Regions from separate parts of the Homo sapiens genome. Here region 2 is linked to region 1. Evidence: fine-mapped expression QTL. A gene starts in region 1. The other region holds a variant in brackets. All regions are shown on one strand. Distances are from middle to middle. Region 1 holds the start of LDB2 (LIM domain binding 2). Region 2 overlaps LDB2 (LIM domain binding 2).

Evidence for each region.
Region 2: its variant is fine-mapped to the expression of LDB2 in whole blood (TOPMed, PIP 0.98).

What each region holds. Positions count from the first base shown.
Region 1 is chr4:16,893,673-16,902,173 of GRCh38, reverse strand. LDB2 (LIM domain binding 2) reads left to right here and starts at 3,529. Exons shown (of 8, transcript NM_001290.5): 1 at 3,529-3,820. The coding sequence starts at 3,689. LOC107986188 (a long non-coding RNA gene) reads left to right here and starts at 7,054. Exons shown (of 2, transcript XR_001741396.2): 1 at 7,054-7,228; 2 at 8,440-8,501.
Region 2 is chr4:16,867,560-16,875,559 of GRCh38, reverse strand. The region is part of intron 1 of LDB2 (LIM domain binding 2); the gene reads left to right. Among named protein-coding and RNA genes, the nearest start is that of LDB2, 27 kb to the left of the region's middle. RefSeq lists an enhancer at 6,557-7,116. The variant A/G (reference allele first, on the strand shown) is at 3,151.

The DNA.
Region 1 (8,501 bases):
GAGCTTGCACTATAGTTTAAAATTATGTTCCCAAATATTTACTAGCTCTTCTACACTGTCTTTCCCTTGCCCTCACTAGATGGCAAGGGGCAGGAAGGCAGGTAGCCTGTGTGCTATGTCACCTTGGCCTCCCAATGATCCCTAGAACCTAAGCAGATATCAGGTACCTAATAATCATGTTATTATTATTATTTTTATTATTATTTGAGACAGGGTCTTGCTCTGTTGCCCGGGATGGTGTGCAGTGGTGAGATCTCGGCTCACTGCAACCTCCACTTCCCAGGTTCAAGCGATTCTCCTGCCTCAGCCTCCTGAGTAGCTGGGATTACACGCACCCACTACCATGTCCAGCTAGTTTTTCTTTTCCTTTTTTTTTTTTTTTTTTTTTTTTGGAGACGGAGTCTCGGTCTGTCACCCAGGCTGGAGTGCAATTGCACGATCTCGGCTCAATGCAACCTCCATCTCCCAGGTTCAAGGAGTTCTCCTGCCTCAGCCACCTGAGTAGCTGGTCAGGCACGTGCCACCACACCCGGCTAATTTTTGTATTTTTAGTAGAGACAGGGTTTCACCATGTTGGTCAGGCTGGTCTCAAACTCCTAACCTCGTGATCCGCCCGCCTCGGCCTCCCAAAGTGCTGGGATTACAGGCGTGAGCCACTGCACCCGGCCTATCATGTTATTATTTGAGCGTTTAGATGACAGGGTTCTAATGCATTTGGATGTATTTGCTAATCCTTAGCAACAATCTTATAGACTAGTTTCTATCATTGTCCTCATCTTGCAATGAGATAACTGAGGTGCAGAGAGACTGAGTCCTTTGCTCAGGTTCACGCGACAACTAGATGGTGGAGCTAGGGTTGAAACGTGCTCTGGCCCTGCTGTTGGCTCTGCCTCTATCCACTGTGAATGGAATATTTGTTGAATAAATAAACAAATGAATGTGTAATTTAAAAAGATTTATGGAGGAGACAATTTAATTTAATAGAAGGATAAGTAGCAGTTTGTAGGTAAACTAGGGCCAGAAGTACAAATGTGGCCATGCATAAGAAAGATTGCAAGTTTAGGAAGATCAAGTATAGCAAATAAATAAATGAATGAACACACAAATGAGTAAATGAATGAGTGTGTGTGAGTGTGTGTGTGTATGTGACAGAGGGAGAAAGAGACAGCACAGAAGTGCGGGTCTTACCGAGCCCTGTATGCCATGTTCCTAAGGAACTTGCACGTTTTCCTTCTGGCAGCAGGGAAACACTGAGGGGGAAAACATGGGACATGATCGCTTTCACTTATCTGAAATCCACATTCTCATTTGAATAAGGACAGACCACAAGTTAGAAGAGGACTGTGAATCTGTGGGCAGGGGGACCAGTTCGGAGACTCCTGAAATAACGGGGATGAGAATCAGGGATATGGATCAGCATTATCAAGTTTCAGATAGTTCTGAAATGAGAGTCTTTCACTATTAATGGCAAGAAATATTTCCAATTATAATTGGCAATGGTCTGCAGAAACAAATGAGAGCAAACCAGAACCTTATTCAGAGAGGGATTCCCTTCCTAAATGGATTTTTGAACTGTTTCATTTTTTTTTGTTACTATTGGCCTGCACAGGCCTGCCTAGGTGTTACTTTCATTCTTGCACTGAAATGGTCACATTAACACAAACTCAGGCAGACACTAAACTTTCAGAATGTCTTTAGTTTGAGAGTTTAAACATAAGGAACCATTAGGTTTTGCAGTGGCTGCCATACCAAAACGTAAATCATGCCAAAATTGTTTGAAATCCTGTCTTTAGAAGGTTGTGTGTTTTGACAAACCTTGCAGCAAATTTGGTCCAGCTTTCGGATTTGTAATGAAACCTGAAACCAAGCATTCTCGCCTGCCTTGGGGTCTCCTAGCGCAAGTTCCAAGCAGCCTTAGTGTAATACCTACCCTAATCTCATCCTGGGAAGCGACATTAGTGTGTTAGGCTGCGCTGCTGGAAGTTTGGGGTGGACTCAGCAAATATTTCATGCAATTATGAAGAAGGACTGATCAAGACAGCAATACACTTTTCTGTGTCTGAGTATTTTTAAGAGTGTAAATTGCAGAATTAGCAATACTCTATCCCCTGTTGGCTAGTGACTTGGAGATACCCAAGCCATGATTGGGGCAGAAAGTTAATTAATCTGCTTATTAAAAAGAAGAAATGTCTCATTTGCATGCATTTGCATTCAGGTCTTGAATTCATTATGCTTTTTGGTGGTCCTTTGCTTTATTTCCTTAATACCACTGACCTACCTAGGTGTTAGCTCAATACATTTAAATTTTGTGTGGCTGGGCTTTGTTTAAGTGTCGTATCTCTGGTTATAGTGGGTTCTAGCAGAATTTGATTATTTTATAGATTGTTTAATTCTCTATAGAGATTTTCCCCTTCCATGGGCTGTTGGGATTTCTTATGGTTATCATATACCACAGTTGGGAAAATATTTGTTTACTTGACCAATCTTGGAAAATACAGACTTTGTCTCCATAAGAGTTGGACATGTTATCTGGGGATGATCCATTCAATTATTTGCAATTTCCTTCTCAACCAAATTTTCCGTGGTCATTTTTGTGGCAGTTTTCTCCTTCTTTGCTTTTCCTGTCTTATTGGGAGGTCTGTTTGGGTTTTTTGTTTGTTTGTTTGTTTGTTTTTCCTTCCTGGGAAAAAAGACCATTGCTCTCCTTAAGTGTATTTTATACCTTCCACATTCAGAACGACTGTTTTTACCTGAAAATGCCCAGGCACCTTAAGGGCCTGAATGAAGTCTTTGGAGAAGAGGGAGGTGGCTGGGAAGAGGGGTGAGTGGGGAGAGATGGGAGTGAGATGGAGTGGAGGGCAAAGAATATAACAGCCCTTGGAACAACAGCAAGTAAAGCAAAACTACATAGGGAGATTAGTGCTGAAATAAATCTCTGCATGTGAGTGAATCACCGGTCCCAATTCGGGGCACCACAGTGCCCGTGTTTCTGTATTTTGTAGTAATCAACATTTCTGATACATTACAACAGTGTGGTTGTCAGGGGTGAGCGGCTCATGTAGCGGTTAGACCACCTCTATGCTAACAAGCTTAGCAATCAGGTTGTGAAGGGTCCTGGCTGGAGGAAAAAAATTAAAACCAAACCTTAGACCTCTTGTCAGACTGTGAGGAGAATTATATTTGTGAACTAGTCTACAATGTGGACAGGAAATGACCTCTCCACAAACTGCTTCTTTAAAAACAAGCAGTGGTGCCTAAAGCTATCCAGCTCCTCTCTCTCTCTCTCTCTCTCTCTCTCTCTCTCTCTCTCTCTCTCTCTCTCTCTCTCTCTCTCTCCCCCTCCCTCCCTCCCTCCTCCCTCCCTCCCTCCCTCCCTTCTTCCCTCCCTTCCTCCATACCAACCTCCCTCCCTCTCTGGAGCTCCTGCTCTCTCCCTCTCCCTCCTCTCCCGTGCTCCCTCCCTCCCTCCCTCTTTCCCTCCCTCCTCTCCTCTCCCTCTCCTCTCCTGCTATAGAGGGCTCCGACAGCAGTTCCCAGCCAGCGTGTTCAGCCTGCCTGCCTGCCTGCCTCTGTGTGTGTGTGAGCGTGTGTGCGTGCGTCTACTTTGTACTGGGAAGAACACAGCCCATGTGCTCTGCATGGACGTTACTGATACTCTGTTTAGCTTGATTTTCGAAAAGCAGGCAAGATGTCCAGCACACCACATGACCCCTTCTATTCTTCTCCTTTCGGCCCATTTTATAGGAGGCATACACCATACATGGTACAGCCAGAGTACCGAATCTATGAGATGAACAAGAGACTGCAGTCTCGCACAGAGGTAAGTACTTCAACCTTGGGGATGTGTTTGTGTATTTTTGTTAAGCTATGCATGAGCTTTTCCTAGGGTTTCTGGCTGAATTCTATGGGAAGTGTCCCACTTGATACTACCACGTACGTGGAAATGAGCGCCAGGATGAATCCACGAGTTTGGACGCTGGGTTTCCAGGCACAGCAACTCTTGTAGCAGAGGACAGTTTCTGCCGGAATCTTGAGACAACCCAGCACTTGATTCACATGCCGGGTTTCCAGAAATGTTGCTCTTCCAGAACTCTGGTGTTTTACAGGCTCTGAGTCAGTCCTGTTGGTGTTTCTTGAGATATAATTCCAAGGAATTTTGTGATTGTTTGCATCTGGCTATATATATATATACATATGTGTATATATATATATATATATATATATATACATATGTGTATATATATATATATATATATATATATATATATATATATATATTTTCTTTTTTACAAATCCTAGAGGAAGTCTGCTTTGACCTGTATTTACTTTTCAGAGTCACCAAAATCGAGGTAAAAAGGGGCAGAAGAGTAAACCTGCCTACTTCTCAGAACTAGCCCTGGAGGGACACATGTTTGTATATTTCAGTGTTAAAATCAGAAACCAGTTGCTTGGGGCAAGGGGACTCTAGACTTTCTCCTATTGCTGTCGGCCGTGCCCCCCTATCACTCTACCTTAGGACAGGAGCTGGTTCAGCTTTCAAGTCAGCTCTAGTTTTTGCATATTTGAGATCTTGTGCCTGAGAGAGGGAGACTCAGCCTCCTAGGCAGCCAGCAACTCTGGGAGCAGAGAGAACAGGACTTTCAGAACTTTTTAAATGCAAAACTCCAGACTCGCCTCCTGCAATTTAAATATTTTATGTCAGTTGACTTTTTCTCTGTGCTAGCTCAGCTGGCAGGTCTTGCTGCTGGATTGTCCATCTGCCTGTAAGTTGGGGCTTTGTGTGGAAGTGTTCGGAAAAGGAGTTTGTTATAGGTGCACCAAAGTCACTTTAGGAAGTGGAAATTGCTAGGAATTTAGTCTTCTCTGCAGAGTATAAATACCACAAGATTTATGCCAAAGAGCTTTTAGGGAATAGCTCTGGTGGAATTTTAGATTGAAGATTGACTTTTAACTCTAGGAAGGGACTCCATTAAGTTTGTGCTATGGGATAAAACACAGTTGGCTTGAATTGTCAACAGAGCCATAGAGAATTCATGACGTTTCGTGTATTTAATACAGCTAACAAGATGTGACCTGCTTTCTGATTGGCTAACTGCTGGACAAGGACTTATATGTATTTTAAAAGCTGGGTTGTCTTTAATGACTGCTGTTTTCTTTATATGTTAATACACCATAGACGCTAAATATGACTGCTGGTACTCTTGCTCTTTCTAGAAGCCAGTAGCTTCTATAGAAGTGCAAACTATGTTTTGCTTAGGATAGTGAACTGTTGGCAGTGACTGATATTTGTGCTTGCTGTTTTGTGTATGTTGCTTTGTGTGTGTAACAGTTTGTATATTTCCTTCAGATCTTTGCAACTGTGTGTTGGAATCTTAAATCTCTGCATAAACCATTGGTTGACACAGGCTGCTTTCATAATTAGGAGGATAGAAAATGTCTTATAGTTCAGGCACACATTAATTGCAATACAAATTTGGAAAAAATAGTCTTTTAAAAGTATGATTAGTTATAAAAAAAGAGGCCAGGGACCATTATGGCTCAATTCTTGAACAGCAACAATATTTAAAAATGACCTGTCCACCTTACATTTTAGAAAGTTTTTGAGGAATTGCAGAGATTCTTCTCCATCCTCCTGCAGTTAGGAACACAGGCAGCTTTCTCTGATATCTGCCTGCCCTCCTGCCCATTACTGAGCACTTGGCCAGGTCTGAGCTAGGAGACTTATCTGCAAGATTTCCCTACTCTTGCCCTCATTAAAAAAAACTGCAGGATTCAATATGGTCCCAGGTTTGTTTCCCATTTGAGACAAGACATTTGAAAAGACCTCCTTTCGCAGTATGCTTTGCAAAGATGGTACATTATTTTTTGTGAGAGCTAAACTCAGGAATTCCTAACTTTTGGATTATGGGGTATTACTTTTAAAGATTTAGCTCTGAGTAGAAAAAGACTACTTCATAGCTCAAGAACCAAGAGAAGAAAGCTTGCTATGACAAATCTTAAAGATTTTTTTAAACCTCCCTGCCTGTAACAGTAAAGTGCTATGAACTGTTTTCTGGTGTGTCCTAGAGCTAACCGTTTACATTTTTCCCTCCTTAATTAGATAATTTTTCAAATAATTATTCAAATAATTGCCTCAATACTTCTTTTTTTCTTTGCTAAGCAGTAAATACTGTCATGAACGCAATGCCATACATTTGTTTTTATTTCATATGAAAAGGGGAGAGAATCAAATAATTGCTCCTAAGATATTTAAATATTTACATCAAATATTAAATTTTGATCATGATGTATGTACCTTGAAAAAAACAATTTTCATGTAAAGTTACACTATACCTTTACCAATAATTGTTATTTATGATAAAGCTGCTCTGAGTTCTGGAGAGGGATTGGTTGGGATAAAATACAATGATACTCAGCAAGAGTTATTAGTTTATTCACATGCAAAATCAAATATGCCTTTGAGTGACTACTTTGAGAATTTAGCCAAAGCATACAACCATTTTGGGCAAGACTGACTCACCCATCCCTCTTCCATCTCTCTCTTCCTCTCTCTCTTCTGGTCCCACTCCTATAGTATATAGTATTATTTCATTAAGTCCTAATATCTCTCTCACACACACACACACACAAACACACCCCACTGGGTAATACTCTCAAGTCTTCACCCCTTTTTGAACATGGACCTGGCTAGAAAAACAATATATAGCAAATCAGTATGTGATGAAGAAATTGTAATCAAGTTTCTGGAAATTTCCTAGAAACCTCCTTTTTTATATGGAAAGAAATTAGTAAAGAACCATGATGTTTACCTACTCTCCTTCCATGGCTGATCCCAGGGCATTTTCTCATGGGGATCCATGCATTTCTTCCAATTAAATTAAATCAAAGTTCTTCAGAAGCCGGGAAGTTTGAGTTTAAAGAGGATGGCATTGGGAGTTAATATTATTTCTAACTCTTACAAACTAGTTAGCATGGGTCTTGGTTCCTCATTTGCAAATTACCAACAGTGTCCCTTTAATTGAAAATTCAGATTTTCTTTTTTTTTTTTTTTTTAGCATGAAAAAGTATTATGAAGTAAAGAGTGCAGACATTATTTCTTTGCTCATGGTATTTAGTTCAAAATCACAAAATCACAAAGAGTTCTTCATGTTGGCACTACGCTAATTAAAAAAAATACCATAAACACCAGAAAAGTGTGAGTTCCGTTATGTATTTTTCCTGTTTTGAGGTTTTTTTTTCTTTTATCAATATTACACATCCAATAATAAAATAATTGGGTAATGGTGAAGAAAACTTGAAGGTCCAGTTTGGTTTTAAAGCTAGCACTTAAAGCAAGTAGTTCCTGGACCAAGTAGGTACTCATTAAACATTTGCTGACTAGCCAATCAGTGAATCAGTAGACAAAAGGAGAGAATTTGAAAACCAATGCATTTAAATTAGCACCTTCCCTGAGAAATACAATTCTGAAGTTTTTTGGGGCCTGGTATCTCCTATTGAGCTGAAGCAGCTTTGCGCCTCTGCTTCTCACTCTCCCTAAAGTGTTCATCTCACATCCCCCACATTTATTTTATGTGAGGTCATTTAGATCCATAATCTTTGTGGCAGAGGAAAGCAAGTGACTAAGTACTAACAGGACCTCACCTCTCTGTAAAGGAATAGGCATGCATTAAAAAGCAAACAGCAACAACAACAAAAGTATATTTTAAATGCTGCTAGCTGTTCTGGGAAATAAATTTTTTTTTCAACATTAGAATCTCAGTGGAATTTAATAAAGAAATGTGTGGGTGCTCTTCCCACCCTTTAAAATGAAATTAAGAAAAATTCTGAGGTTAGCATCACTGTTGTTCACTGTAATTCCCAGGCAGCAGAAAGGAGTTTACATTTTCTGTTGTGTATGCTGTCAAAAATTGACCCAATGTCTTCCAAAATTCATGTATTTGAATGGTTTGGCAGTGCCAAATGTATTTTGGAAGAATACAACCGCACAATTATATAGTTTTAACACTGTACACACAATACAGTCAGATAGGATATAAAAATATGTTCTGAAGACTTCAGAATTTGTTCTGTGAAAAGCTTCAATAAAAGCAAAAACAATGTATTTTTTCATTTTTAGGTCTCAGCCCTGAGATGAAAATATAGGTAAAATATATGAGAAACATTACAGTGGACATCATTGTAAGTGAAGGGATTTAACTAATGTTCGATTATTATAAAATTTAAGAAAGTTTATCAAGTAAAGTTCACAAATCTTTGTTAGAGGAGATAACTTTTCTATACCTTGTTTTCTCATTCAAATGACCAAAAATGTCTGCATTTAAGTGAAGATATTTTTAAGTATACATAGTTCTTCATGTTGGCACCATGCTAATTTAAAAAAAAAAATACCATAAACACCAGAAAAGTGTGAGTTCCGTTATGTATTTTTCCTGTTTTGAGGTTTTTTTCTTTTATCAATATTACACATCCTCTTCCAAAAGAGAAAACTGTGATTACAATCG
Region 2 (8,000 bases), 26 kb after region 1:
TAGTGACTAGACAGATGATTCACTCTAAAATGCAGTTGATTTTTAAAAATAATTTTAAGTAAAATTGATCATAAGTTTTCTTTTTCTTTTTTCTTCTCCATGAGCTTTAATGTTCTTTAGTATTCCTTGGCTTCACTCTGAACTCTTTGATTCAGTTGGTCCGGAGTAGGCCACAGGATCTGCTTTTTATCCAGTAGCATGGTAATCTTTAAAAATTTATTTTTCAATTGATAAATTAATTTTGTATAGCTTAAGACATCAAATGAGGTTATCTGATTACCACCCAGATCAGATTTTGCCAGCCCCAGAAACCCTACCCTGATGATAACCCCTTTCCTTGTATAGTCTTAATTGACTTTTTTGGTATTAATTCTCTTATGTTTCCCCAGACACTATGTTTCCCCAGCTGCTATTGATTCTCAGACTGGCCTGCCTTGCTGTCCAGTGAATACTTGTTGGCTGTTTTTGATTCCCTGATTTTCTGGTCTATCAGATGTTCTCTAGCTTCCTTCCTGCCTAGACCCTGATAACATACATGTCTATGGCTGTAGTGGTTTGTTCCACTGGCTTGTATTTTGGGATGTCAGGTCCCCTTTTCTTTTCAAATATAATTTTTGTTTTATTGAAAAAATTGAAAGAGCTTTTTAAAAACATAATTGGACCAATTTTTGTCAAGTGCCACTCTTGTGCATACATAAACAAGGCTATAAATGAAATACATTGGTTAGGTATTACTAAGACTTACACTCAGGGTCTAATGGTTTAGAATTGTTCTTCAACTCATGGTTGTCCACGATTTTCCACGTAGTATAACCTTTGTGCCACCAAGGATGTTGGTGAGATGGCATTCTTCAAAATAATACTTTTAGAAAACAGACATGATGCAGGTCTCTGAGCAGGCTTTGCATTAGGTAGAGCTTGCCTAATTTTGAATTTGATTTTCAGGAATGTAGCGAATCTTGTTGGATGCGCACTCTCCCTGACTCTTACCCTCAACTATTTGATTGAGAGGAGAAAGAGTGATCTATCTGTCCCTCCTTTTCTTCCAAACCATTCGCACCCATTCTGCAAATTATGATGCTTCTGCTTTGAATATTTGTACATGTACAATGACAATGATGGCTTGACAGAGAGGGTAAATCATAGTCTAATTGTAAAACATGCATTGAGACATCAGATTGATATTGGAAAAAATGTGCATCTTAGAATTAATGAACTTATAGATAAATATAGACACGGGATTTTTCTGTACTTCTTGTCTTGTAACCTTCTTTCTCACTTTAAAATATATTCTATTTATTTATTAAATATAATATAAAACTGAATCTTAAGATCTGCCTATTTTCCAGCCTATGCATTGCCATGATGATCTTATCATCTAATTTTGTTATAAATGTTTTCCACGAGTTTTTGGTTTGGAGTTTGTGTAGGGAGTTGGAGATATTTTTAAATGATGCTATCATTGTTCGTAACAGTCAAAAAGCAGAAGTAACCCCAAATGTCTGTTAAGCGATGACTGGATAAACAAAATGTGATATATCAGTACAATAGGGACCATAAAAGGATGAAATTTGGATCCATTGCTACAGCGTGGACGAGCCTCAAAAACATTATGCTAAATAGAAGAAGCCTTTCACAAAACACCACATATTGTAGATTACGTGGATGGAAACAGTAATTCCTGCAATTGACATGAGAGACCATGTTGGGATCATGAAAACCTGCTGAAACACTGAAACTGGTTGTGGTGATGATTGTTATGACTTGGGCAATTTACTAAAAATTAAAACACATGAATTTTGTGATTTACACATTATACGTCAATAGGATCATGAAAAAAAACTTTGCCACCAATGCTGTTTTCTCAAATACTAAGTTTTAAGACTAAAAATATGCAGAATAATATAAAATATAAAAACAATATTAAGAAATGCCAAAATACTCCTTGTTTTAGAAAACTCTTTAGGAATTGGAATAATTTGGTTTTTCTTTGTTGAATTTTTTAAGGAATAAAGTAGAAGAATAGAAAGCCTAAGGACAAAGAACATTTTTTTTTTTGTCATAAGATCAACTGGTGAATAGAGACCATTAACACCGTCAAGGTTAACCCCAGGCCGAATGCCAGGTTCTCTTTTCCAGGTTCTAGCTCAACCCTGTCCTGTGCTCCAGCACTTTCAGTGATAGGCAGCCCACTCCATTTTGAGGCAATCCATCTTATTGACTTAGGGTTCTAGTTAAAAGAAATGTAAAAAAATTAAAGTCAAGTTTGTCTCTTAGTCACTATCATTCACCAGCCCTTTTCTGAACTTGTACAAAATAAGTTCATTCTCTCTTCTACAGGAGAGACCTCCACTATCCAAATATGAGGAGCTTATCATCCCAAGGCTCCAGGTCTTCTCATTGCTAAATATAGCACCCTGGGCTAAATATTCCCAGGGTGCTCAGCTGTTTCTCAAATGCAGAGGAAATGCCCGATACACCATTCTCCTTCACAGCATCTTTACCACCCTGCCACTTGGCCTTTTTGAACCCCCATTAGATGGTGAGCATTTTCCTTATCTGATTGCTTTCCCCTGTCACTGGGCTGTCAATGGGACTCTTAGAATTGGACTTAGAAGCACGTGGGCTCCCCGACAATGATCTGGACAGCCTTGCTTTGAATATAGTGGATCTTTTGCTTTTCTTGCTTTGCTTGCAGAGCTCAAGGAAACATATTTTCTGATCTTGTCATCTTTTGCTAAAACATACTGAAAGTTAATTAATAGTCATGGCTGTGAAATCTTTTCTCTGGTTTGTTTCTGCCTTATACTGATTTCTAAACTATTTGCAAATATTATTTTTGATTGTAACAGTATGAAAGGGATTGAGAGTCCTGCCTACACTGACTTATAATAAAAGATGCCATGAATTTACCTGAGAATCTGAGAAGGTCTATTGCTCTCATTCTTTAAAAACTTTTTTTTTGTTGTTAAGTATCTGCTTTATGCCAGTCATCCATTCTCAGCACAAGAGAAAAAGAAGCAGTGATAACAACAAAGATTCTTTTAACCAGAATAGAACTTACAATTCAGTTGAAGGAACCATACAATAAACAAGTAAACAAATATATATATGCCATAGCATTAAGTAGTATTTGAAAAGTTTTATTCA[A/G]TTCTGAGGAGCAGTAACTCATGTTATGGATGAATGATTGAAGTTCAGGTATTCATTTGTGGTGAAGAAAAATAAAGATAAAAAATAAAAAATAAAGATAAAAGAATAAAAATAATATGAAGAAAAATACAGTCACAGGATAGAGACATATGATGGACACTACTTTAGATAACGTGGTCAAAGAAGATGTCCCTGAGTAGAGACCCATGCAAAATACAGAAATGAGAGCTCTATGGATAAATGTTTAACAATTGGGTCTTTAAAAAAAAAGAGCGTGTATATACATACATACGCTTATTATAAGTTTTACTAATAGAAAGATATATAGTTTACAGTTTATGGATAATAATAAAATATACAATATTTTTTATTATAAATTCTGTATAGCCAATTAATTCTCCCAAAATGCTTTCATTGATTTCTGCTGAACTCTTATAGTCATAGCCCAAATGTAATTTTCATTGATGAATAAGAGTAGTTCTGATGTGGGCTGGGCGCGGTAGCTCACACCTGTAATCCCAGCACTTTGGGAGGCCGAGGTGGGCGGATCATCTGCGGTCAGGAATTCAAGACCAGCCTAGCCAACATGGCAAAACCCCTTCTCTACTAAAAAATACAAAAATTAGCTGGGCGTGGTGGTGGGCGCCTGTGATCCCAGGTACTTGGGAGGCTGAGGCAGGGGAAATTGCTTGAACCTGGGAGGCGGAGGTTGCAGTGAGCTGAGATCGTGCCACTGCACTCCAGCCTGGGTGACAGAGCGAGAGTCTGTCTCAAAAAAAAAAAAAAAAGAAAGAGTGGTTTTGACATGAATGTTGGCTGATATTTTCTTTTACATTAATGATTAAGAAGACAATGAAACAACAGAGATGAATATTTGAACTTCATTCATTCATCAGTGACATGAGTCACTGCTCTCCTGAATTGGATAATACTTCTCGAATACTGGAAGAATATTTCCTCAAATTTTCTGCCACTCATTATGTTACAGCTTCAGGCATGCAAACTTTCATACTTAATTCATATTATTAACATTTTTGCATCACTTTCTTAAATCTACACAGTCAACAAAATAAAAACTCAAGCCCTGCATTTTAGCATTTGCCAATTTCTGTAGTAAATACTCCCACTATGGCTCATTTGAAGCTACATATATTCAAAGTGTGGGGTTGAGAAAAGACACACACCATTATACAGTATTTCCATCATGCAACAGACATAAATAACCCCAAGGGCACCAATAATAGTAACATGTAGCAAAATAATTAGGAATTTTGGACTAGTTATTACCTTTGCTTTCAGTATGATTTGTTTAATTGGAAGTTAGAGGCTGTCTCACAAAATTTCTGAAAATTTAGCAATAGGAGAGCTGCAACACACTGCTGAGTGCAACATATGGGTCTCACTCATTTGCCAGAGGAAGCAGTGTATGCAGGTCTAAATCAGAGATAGGCTTTTTGGGTTTAAAGAACGCAAGGAGGCAGGGCATGGTGGCTCATGCCTGTAATCCTAGCACTTTGGGAGGCCGAGGTGGGCGGATCACCTGAGGTCAGGAGTTCGAGACCAGCCTGGCCAACATTGTGAAACCCTGTCTCTACTAAAAACTACAAAAACTAGCCAGGTGTGGTGGCGGACACCTGTAATCCCAGCTACTTGGGAGGCTGAGGCAGGAGAATCGCTTGAACTGGGAGGTGGAGGTTGTAGTGAGCAGAGATTGCACCGCTGCACTCCAGCCTGGGTGACAAGAGCGAGACTCCATCTAAAATAAATAAATAAATAAATAAAGAGAATGCAAGGAAGTGAGTGTTGTGGGTATGGAGTGGACACAAGAAGGGAGGGAGGCTGCAGAGATGGTGAGGCCAGATCAGAGAGGGCTTTTATACCTGGTAAAGAGGGATGTTAAGGGGAGTGGGGGTGACCGCAGGTCCCCATATGCTCTGGGTAAGGCCACACATACACACCCCTTCAGCAGGATTGCAGAGCCCCTAATTAGCTTTGTGATTTTTAAGAGCCACTTCCCCTTCTGGCCACCACTTTTCTTATCTGTAAGATACGGAAGTTGGACTAATATGACATTTAAACTTCCTTCCAATTCTAACCATCTCTGGATCTGGATAAGCCTTCGCTCCTTTTTGTGTAATGAATGCAGCGAGTCCTGTTGCCTACTGAATTCGTCCATGTGGCAGGCTCCTGGGCTTTCTCACTATTCCCTCCTATTGATATGGTTATGGTTAGTCTTCCAAACACTGAATCCACGGCATCTTCTGCATCTCCTTCCTTCACCTCTGAATGTCGTGGATCGCCTCTGCAGCTGCCTTGTACAAAACACAATGGCTGCTTCTTCCAATAAAGCATTTGGGGTTGCTGCTGGCTGGCATCCCACCATGGCCACCCACTCACATAGGCTCATGTCACCATCACGCTGAAAGAACAAGTCCCCAAAGACTGAGATACATGGCTAAGAAAATACTGCAAGTAGGAAAACAGGCTCAAGGAACATCCTGAGTGTTGTTTTTGGATCACCACATTGACTTTCTAGATCACTTCCAAATTTGCAACCTAAAACAGCAGGATGTTCCTCAAATACTTAAGATGGAAGGCGACCAAAAATATCACTGGGTAAAGTGAACATCTACGTATTGGTATGACCAGCTCCAAACTCAAAAAATGAAGCACGTGAACTGTACTTTTGTGACGTAAGAAGCTCGTAACTCAATAATAGTCATAATTTTAGAAACACCCATGGTGCAGTGGTTTTGATTTCAGGCCCAAGTACTGAACTCTCTGCGCTTGGATTTCAGGTCGACCATGCCTCAGCCAAGTCATCTAACTGAAGATGAGTCTGTTGCCTCATTTGTAAATGCACGTTGATAGTAGCAGTAACTGCCTTGTATTGGTGTTACTGGAATTAGATGAATTAATACTGTTCCATAGTGTTCATATAACATAGTTGTTTTAGAAGCACCTTCACACCCATGATTTAATTTTCTCTTCCAAACAACCCTCATTTCTGAAGAAAGTTGTCTGATATTATCACCTCCATGTCTGACGGGTCAGCATAGCACCTTTCCCAAAACTTCGAGCATTTCTGAGTTTTTTTTTTTTTTATGACTTTTGCATTTGTGTACTAGAATTCTGCCCTTAGAACTGGCCTGCCTGAGCTTAATTTCTAATTTAAAACATTTTACTACTGTGTGTCTTTGGGCAGTTACTTAACTTCTCTAGGCCCCAGCTTCCTCACCTGATGAATGGGGATAATTAAAATAATAATAATAACAATAATGATGCCCACCTCATAGCATTGTTGAGAATTAACTGAAGGAAACTTTATGAACCACTGAGGCACTTAGCATGGTGTCTGGCAAATGGTAGCACCATTCATCATCATCAACATCATCTACCAGCATCATCATCACCAATAATGTCATCATCTTCATCATAATCTTCATTAAAATCATTCTCATCACCGGCATCATCATCACCAGTAACGTCTTCCTCTTCATTATCATCTTCATCAACATCATCATCATCACCAAAATCATTGTCAACAGCATCATCATCGTTATCACCAACATCATTACCAACACCATGACCACCATTATCGTCATCATCATCCTATGAGAAGAAACAGATCCTAAAAACAGTTAAAAGACTGGGCTAACGAAAGGCACTGAGATAAAGGTCTTTGGCAATTGGTGTCCTATGTGAATAACAAGTGCTTCTGTGTTATACTCTGCATGGTTGCAATCACTTCAGTCTTCATCCTTTGAAAGGAGAAGTGTGGGTGAAAGAGGAGGAGAGACAAATCCATTCACACAATCTGCAACTTTTCCCATCTGCCTGAGTGAATATTCGTTTTGCTTTGCCTTAAGATTCTGCCACCAGACTTTGATTCCAGTGCTGAGTGACTGTCTGGGGTGGCAGAAGGGGTTGGGTGGGGGTGATGACTCTGACCTCTCTGATATTAAGAGTTTATACAGAGAATAGTATTTGCTGTGCATTTTAATCAGCAAAATACACCCCCGTCAGCAGATGTTAATTTGCATTCTGACAATGCTGCCCCTGGAACCTGAGAATGTGATGTTGGAACAATAAAAAAGTTTTTGAGTAATAATACCTTTGTCCTATCAGGAGTCCCCAAATTTAGAGGTCTGGTCCCTGTTCTTGCCTGAGATATTAAAGCACAGAAACTATGGGTAAGCCTGTTATCATTACTCAGGCTCAACTGACGCAAAAGTAAAATAAAATGGGTGATACCTACTCTCTTGAAGATAAAACTAGAATAGATAATCTATTAAGGTCCACTTAAATCACTAAGATAAACGAGTCTAATGTGATTAAAAGAAAGGTGTGGAAAATGCATATGTAACTACTGTAGGGCTTTATAATGACAATCTTTCTGGGCTTTGGTAATTTGAGAGGTCTGGACTTTATCAGGGATAGCAAATGGATTTCATTTTATGTGACAGCTCCAACAGATGCTAGTGGATTGTTTTTGAAGTGGTCAGGTTAGGTTAGGGATAGAATGTTGTCATGGATTGTTGATATCTTCTATGTGCATAGGAGGATATTCATATCCACTTGGATATGAATGCCCGACATTTTTCACCCTTGGACTTCATTGTCTTGAAGTGTCTTGGAGTGCAGCTATTTGATTATAGATCACTTCTTCACCATTGCTCCCAACTACCACCTTGAAATCTTGGTGCTATTATCATCTTTTGCCGATGAATTACTGGTTCTTATTTCTACATTTTAAAGAGCCCTCTTTACCATCTCAAGTTAATGATTCTTTAAGTAGCTATATCTCCTGGAATCCTTCTTTACCTAGAAAACACTACAAACCTGGGCAC